Linked DNA regions of Homo sapiens. The protein of the gene in region 1 purifies or fractionates together with the protein of each later gene. This does not show direct contact. Each region holds a gene or a part of one and is shown in the gene's direction. Other genes may lie near its edges.

Evidence for each region.
Region 2: the proteins of ARPC4-TTLL3 (region 1) and ARPC1A fractionate together in Homo sapiens (co-fractionation; one large-scale study listed by BioGRID). This does not show direct contact.

What each region holds. Positions count from the first base shown.
Region 1 is NC_000003.12:9,816,475-9,820,289, forward strand, and holds part of ARPC4-TTLL3 (ARPC4-TTLL3 fusion protein), read left to right. Parts: intron 1-1,170; coding exon 1,171-1,285; intron 1,286-2,080; exon of another isoform or gene 2,081-2,347; coding exon of another isoform or gene 2,348-2,446; intron 2,447-3,815. Other genes in the region: tubulin monoglycylase TTLL3, read left to right, coding at 1,171-1,285, 2,348-2,446.
Region 2 is NC_000007.14:99,346,091-99,349,905, forward strand, and holds part of ARPC1A (actin-related protein 2/3 complex subunit 1A), read left to right. Parts: intron 1-2,761; coding exon 2,762-2,869; intron 2,870-3,815. UniProt on the Homo sapiens protein: Probably functions as a component of the Arp2/3 complex which is involved in regulation of actin polymerization and together with an activating nucleation-promoting factor (NPF) mediates the formation of branched actin networks.

The sequences.
Region 1 (3,815 bases):
AAGCAGAAGATATCTGGCTAATGGACCCATTCTGTCTTACCTGGGTTTCTTTTTTTTTTTGAGACAGAGTCTTGCTCTGTCTCCCAGGCTGGAGTGCAGTGGTGCAATCTCAGCCCACTGCAACCTCTGCCTCCCAGTTCAAGCAATTCTCCTGCCTCAGCCTCCTGAGTAGCTGGGACTACAGGTGCGTGTCACCACACCTGGCTGATTTTTGTATTTTTTAGTAGAGATGGGGTTTCACCATGTTGGTGACCTCAGGTGATCCACCTGCTTCAGCTTCCCAAAGTGCTGGGATTTCGGGCACGAGCCATCATGCGCAGCCTTACCTGGTGTTCTTAGCAAGTGACTTCACCTCTCTGAGCCTCAATTTCCTCATCTTTCAATGAGAATACCAGTAAGGCCCATCTTCTGGGGTTGTGGCAAGGATGAAGGGCTTTATAATAATGACCTGCCATTATATTATTGGTGTGGGTTAGGAAGGATTCTAGAGGAAGCAGCTCTTTTTTTATTTTTAAGAGATGAGGTCTTGCTATGCTGCCTAGGCTGGTCTTGAACTCCTGGCCTCTGGCCTCAAGCAGTCCTCCCACTTCAGCCTCCCAGAGTGCTGGGATTATAGGTGTGAGCCACCGCGCTCGGCCTTGGCAGCTCTTTAAGAATGAGAAAGGGTGGGCCGGGCACAGTGGCTCACGCCTGTAATCCCAGCACTTTGGGAGGCCGAGGCAGGCAGATCACCAGGTCAGGAGATCGAGACCATCCTGGCTAACACGGTGAAATGCCGTCTCTATTAAAAATACAACAAATTAGCTGGATGTGGTGTCGGGCGCCTGTAGTCCCAGCTACTCTGGAGGCCGAGGCAGGAGAATGGTGTGAACCCGGGAGGCAGAGCTTACAGTGAGCCGAGATCGCGCCACTGCACTCCAGCCTGGGTGACAGAGTGAGACTCCATCTCAAAAAAAAAAAGAATGTGAAAGGGGGGACAGGAGGGACATCAGGCATTCTTGGCAAAGGACACCTCCCAGGCAAATATATGGTGATAGATGTGAGCAACTCAGACCTTGCAAGCGGGGCCAAGGCTCTGAGCGCAGATCCAGTCAGAGTCTTTCTGAACTGTCTGGGTGTGTGGTGAGTGTGGGCAGTCCTGCCCTGCCCTCTCAGTGGCTAACTCCGTAGGTGGGTCTATGTCTCAATCTCCGGAATTTGCCGTGGTTTGATGAGGTTGATGCCAACTCCTTCTTCCCACGCTGCTACTGCCTGGGGGCTGAGGATGACAAAAAAGCCTTCATAGGTAAGGAGACCCCCAGCCCTATGCCTGAACCTCAGGCTGACAGAGCAGGGCTGAAGCTCTGGCTCATATTGGAGAGAAACAGGCCTCTCTTCATGCCCTCATCTGCCTGCCCCAGCAGATTTCCCTTTCCACCCTCAATCCTTATCCTTCCCTAATGTGCCCTCCCTTAATAAGCCTCTTAGCTTGGTCAACTCTGACCTCCAGAAAAGCTTGGGTAGCTTGGCTTATATTCTAGAGCAGGTTCTAAAAGTTGGTCAGTCCCTTGAGTTTGGAATCCAGAACAGATTCCAGGCTTATATCAAGTTCCATTTGTTGAATTGGGTTCCAAAAAAGGCTGCAGGCTTTGGATTTCTAAGGCAGACTAGGTTCCGATTCCACAATATGTTCTAAATTCAGGTTAGAATTTGGATCCAGATTCTATGCTAGATTTAAATTACATTCAGAATCTGAACTAGGACACAGTCTGGTTCTCAGGACAGAATAAGTATCAAAAGTAGGTGATGAACAGAAGAAACAAATCAGACAATGGGTCCAAGCCAGATTCTGAAGGCAGAATATGATCCAAGTCAGGTCAGATTTGGGGTCTGGTTACACAACTGAAACAGGAGCAAGTTCTTTTTTTTTTTTGAGACGGAGTCTCGCTCTGTCACCCAGGCTGGGGTGCAGTGGCGCGATCTTGGCTCACTGCAAGCTCCGCCTCCCAGGTTCCCGCCATTCTCCTGCCTCAGCCTCCCGAGTAGCTGGGACTACAGGCGCCCGCCATCACGCCTGGCTAATTTTTTGTATTTTTAGTAGAGACGGGGTTTCACTGTGTTAGCCAGGATGGTCTCGATCTCCTGACCTCATGATCCATCCACCTCAGCCTCCCAAAGTGCTGGGATTACAGGCGTCAGCCACCGTGACCAGCCTGAAACAGGAGCAAGTTCTAAACTCAGGCTCTAGAGTCAGAAAAGGTAGAGTCAGGTTCTGGATCCAAAATGGGGCAAGTCATGATCAGGTTCTGGAACCAGAACAGGCCTCAAGCCTAGGGGCTGAGCAGGGTATCCCCTGGCCTGGGAGCAGAGGACTTCTGGCTGACTGCTGCCCGCAACGTTCTCAAGCTGGTGGTGAAGTCTGAGTGGAAGTCATACCCTATTCAGGCAGTAGAGGAAGAGGCCTCAGGTAAGTACTGTGGTTACCTCCACTCTCCCACCCATTTATCCTCCACCCATCCGCCCTTCCACCTATCTGCCCTTCTACCTATCTATTCATCCACGCACCTACTGGTTCATCCACACATCTGTGTATGATTCACATCTACCCATCTATCCATCCATCCACCAGCCATCCATCCACTCATCCACCCACGTATTCACCCACTCTCTGATCTACCGATTCACCCACCCACCCTTCCACTCATCCTTCCATCCTCCCACCTGTCACCCATTGTTAATCTCGTCATTCATCTACCTGATGTCAGCTCCATACTCCCCATCCATCTATCCACTCCCTGCCTACCTATCCTTCCACAGATCCACCTACCCATCTATCTACCTGCTATTCCATTCTCCCATCTACTACCTATCTGTTCTTCAGGCCATCCACTCATCCATTCTTCTGTCCCAGGTACTTAGACACTTGTCTTCCCATCCGTTTGTTAGTTGATCCACTCCTCATTCAGCCCTCCCATGGGCCTGGCATGTAGCCGAGCACCCTGGAGAGGGCAGACTAAGAAGACATGGTCCGTCCCTGCCTGTGAGGAGTTCAGGTCTCTGAGGAGGAGGAAGCAGTGAAACTGGGCTTTACACATGGCCTGAGAACAGCTTAGGCCTGAACATAAGGAACAGCTTGGAGTGGAGGGGACACAGAGGAACCCTCACTATCATGCATGCCAACCCAACCACTGCCTGCCCTTTCCCTTCTGGATTTAGCTCGTGTCTCCAGGCTCCTAGTCCTGTAATCCAGGGACCCATCAGCGAGGGATTCAGGGAAGCAGAGGCAGCTCTCCAGGAAGGAGGAAAATCCCTGCCTCTTCCAGAGAGACTCCCCCATTGCTGTCTCTTGTGTGTGTCATGCACAAGGAAGGCTTGGTTGTGTGCCAGGATAAGGGGCACAAGGGCCTCGGGTGTGGCCAGAGACCCCATGCTTAAGCTTTTATGGTATAGGTCAGGCTGCAGGGGTTTGAGGGCCTCAGTTGTATATCAGAATCTTCAGAGCACTGCGATGTTCAGGGGTGAGTCAGGTCTGTAGATGTGCACGGGGTCTTCTGAAGGGTCAGTTTCTGTAATCACTTTCAGGTGTGTCAGGGCCTTGTGCAGTAACAGTGCACACAGAAGTTAGTGTTTCTGTGGGCTAAGGGTTGTAGCTCTGTATCAGGATTCTGGGAGTGGGTCTGGATTTCTGGTGTGTGGACTTAAGAAGCTGTGTCAGACTTGGGGGAGGGGCGTTCATGTATAACTGGGTTCACATAGGCCAAGACTCCCAGGTGCATTTTAGGCAGAGCCTCAGGTGTGTTAGAGGTCCCAGGGGCAGAGAGGCTATAGGTGCTGTC
Region 2 (3,815 bases), on another chromosome or scaffold:
CTGTAATCCCAGCTACCTGGGAGGCTGAGGCAGGAGAATCTCTTGAACCCAGTAGGCAGAGGTTGCGGTGAGCCGAGATCACGCCATTGCACTCCAGCCTGGGCATCAAGAGTGAAACTCCGTCTCAAAAAAAAAAAAAAAAATTGAGTTACGAATTTGAAACATACATTTTTCTTTCAAATGTGAAATCAAGGCTAACAAAATGTTACCTGCTAGAAACTATTTGGAAGTTTCATTGTAATGAGATAGGAAACTAACTTCATTAATATTCTCTCAAGGCTAAACTTTATGTCAGCTGGTACTCCTTGCAATCTTACAAATTTCTACAGGAAACTTTTCTTCCAAGTTAAGCTTCAACCTCAGTAATTGTTTACATTTTTATTCGTTGAGAATTAGTGTCAAGTATAGGTAAATTGGACTTTATTATGGTACAAGGTATTGTCTTTGAACAAGCTGTATGTTTAGGGCAGTTTCTCAGCTGTAGAACAATTATTTCATATTTCATAGGAGTACTTTAAAACAACTTCTCAGAAGTTTATAATTCAGCCATATGAACTAATTATTTTGCTTGCCATCTTTTCCTTAATTAAAAAAATTACATTATAAAGGCCAGGCACGGTAGCTCACGCCTGCAATCCCAGCACTTTGCGAGGCCAAGGCAGGCGGATCACGAAGTCAAGAGTTCGAAACCATCCTGGCCAACATGGAGAAACCCCATCTCTACTAAAAATACAAAATATTAGCCAGGTGTGGTGGTGCATGCCTATAATCCCAGCTACTTGGGAGTCTGAGGCAGGAGAATCGCTTGAACCAGGGAGGTAGAGGTTGCAATGAGCCGAGACCATGCCACTGCACTCCAGCCTGGGCAACAGAGCAAGACTCTGTCTCAAAAAATATGTATACATTATGAAACAATTCGAAATACTGTCTTTTTCTCCTTTTTTAGAGACTTTGTGGGGGATTTTGGTTTTTTATTTTATTTATTTATTTATTTTTTGAGACAGGGTTTCTCTCTGTCACCCAGTCTGGAGTACAGTGGTACAAACACGGCTCACTGCAGTCTCCAACTCCTGGGATCCAGCAGTCTTGCCACTTCAGCCTCCCAAGTAGTTGGGACTACAGGTTTGCACCACCACACCTGGCTAATTTTTTGATTACTTGTGGAGACAGGTTCTCACTTTTCTTGCCCAGGCTGATCTCAAATTCCTGTACTCAAGCAATCCTTCTGCTTTGGTCTTCCAAAGTGCTGGGAGTATAGTTGCAAGCCTCTGCACCTGGCTGTCTTTTTCAGAATGAACTTCTTCAGACAGGATACTAAGAAAGTGATTCTGTAGCCAGGCGTGGTGGCTCATGCCTGTAATCCTAGCACTTTGGGAGGCTAAGGCAGGCAGATCACCTGAGACCAGGAGTTTGAGACCAGCCTGGCCAACATGGTGAAAGCTAATCTCCTCTAAAATTACAAAAATTAGCCGGGCGTGGTGGCGTGAGCCTATAATCCCAGCTATCGGGAGGCTGAGGCACAAGAATTGCTTGAACACAGGAGGCAGAGGTTGCAGTGAGCTGACATTGCGCCACTGCACTCCAGCCTGGATGACAGAGTAAGACTCTGTCTCAAAAAAATAAAAAATAAATAAATAAAAGAAAGTGATTCTTGCTTGACCCCGGGAGGTGGAGGTTGCGGTGAGCTGAGATCACGCCATTGCACTCCAGCCTGGACAACAAGAGCGAAACTCCATCTCAAAAAAAAAAAAAAAAGAAAGAAAGTGATTCTATAGAAAGGTAATTTAGCATTGAAGGAAAGGCATTGGCTCAATATTTAGTCTCCCAACTGTTGAGCAACCAGACGTGATTGGTTTTTAAACAGCAGTTTGGGGGCAGAAATGAATTAGTTAAGCCAAAATACTGACTGGTCCTAGACATAAATCATCTTTTTTGGATGGTGCTAGCGAATTAGAGGCTAATCCCCAACATGAGGTTCTTCTAATTTCTTGGTTGTGATTTTTCAGTGAAAGAAATTAAAAAGAATTTGCAGATTCGTGGAGACTTGGGAAGGATATTAAGCTGTCTTACAACCCCAAATTCACCAAAAATTCAGCAAATCACTGAATATTCATAATAAAAATTGAAGTATTTTCAAACTTCAGTTTTTATCTCAGAGGTTAACGTCCTATGTAATCCGAAATCTCACGAAAACATAACTGAGTTAATCAATATCTATGCTTACTAATGAGGACTGCTGAAAACCAGCTGTTGTGCTGAGAACATCAGGGCCAGGAGTGGAGAAGGCCTGTTCATGGTTCTTTTCCTTTCTGTCCTTTAGCAATGCACCTTGTCAGCTGGGCGTAGTGGCTCATGCCTGTAATCCCAGCACTTTGGGAGGCTGAGGCCGGTAGATCACTTGAGCCCCAGAGTTTGAGACCAGCCTGGGCAACATGGAGAAATCTCATCTCTACAAAAAATACAAAAATTAGCCAGTCTCAGATCATAACCTGGTATCAAAAAACCTTGTCTCTGGCAGAAGGCCTGGTGACCGACAGAAGAACGTTGAATGCTCTGTTACTTTTCTATAGAATCTTTTTTTATAGAAACCTATCTGAAAAAGTTTATTCTGAAAAAAATAATATTCTGAATTGTTTTATAATTTTTTTTTAAATTAAGGAAAAGTGTGGCCTACTTAGGTATTTTCACCTGACATACATTTGTAGGTCATTTGGGGATGCTGGTTGAGTGGATAAACTGAAACAGTTTTCCCCTCTCATAGGTGGGTGAGCAAGCACATTAAAAAGCCGATTCGCTCCACAGTCCTCAGCTTGGATTGGCATCCCAACAACGTTTTGCTGGCAGCAGGATCATGTGACTTCAAATGCAGGTGGGAACCAGTGAGAACTGATAAACTTGAGCCGTGCATTCTTCATCCTTCAACAAATAATTTTAGGTTCTCTTTCTTTGTTTTTTGTTTTGTTGTGGTTGTTGTTGTTTTGAGACAGGGTCTCACTCTCACCCAGGCTGGAGTGCAGTGGCACCATCATAGCTCACTGCAGCCTCCAATTCCTGGGCTCAAGCGATCCTCCAGCCTCAGCCTCCAGAGTAGTTGGGACTACAGGTATATGCCACCACACCTGGCTAATTTTTTTAAAATTGTCTTTATTCTTTGTAGAGACGGGGTCTTGCTACATTGCCCAGGTTGGTCTTGAACTCCTGGCCTCAAGTGATCCTCCCTCCTTGGCCTCCTGAAGTGCTGGGATTACAGGCATGAGCCAGTGTGCCTGGCCTGTAAGTTTCCTTTTCTTTGCAAGGTACTGCGCTAGGCACTGTGAGGGACTCAAAAATGAGGCCTGGTGCTGTGGCTCACACCTGTAATCCCAGCACTTTGGGAGGCTGAGGTGGGCGGATCACCTGAGGTTGGAAGTTCAAGACCAACTTGGCCAACATGGTGAAACCCCGTGTCTACTAAAAATACAAAAGAGGCCGGGCGCAGTAGCTCACGCCCGTAATCCCAGCACTTTGGGAGGCTGAGGTGGGCGGATCACAAGGTCAGGAGATCGAGACCATCCTGGCTAACACAGTGAAACCCCGTCTCTACTAAAAAAATACAAAAAATTAGCCGGGCGTGGTGGCGGGTGCCTGTAGTCCCAGCTACTCGGGAGGCTGAGGCAGGAGAATGGTGTGAACTCGGGAGGCGGAGCTTGCAGTGAGCCGAGATCACACCACTGCACTCCAGCCTGGGCGACAGAGCGAGACTCTGTCTCAAAATAAATAAATAAATAAAAGTTAGCCTGGTGTGGTCACAAATGCCTGTAATCCCAGCTACTTGG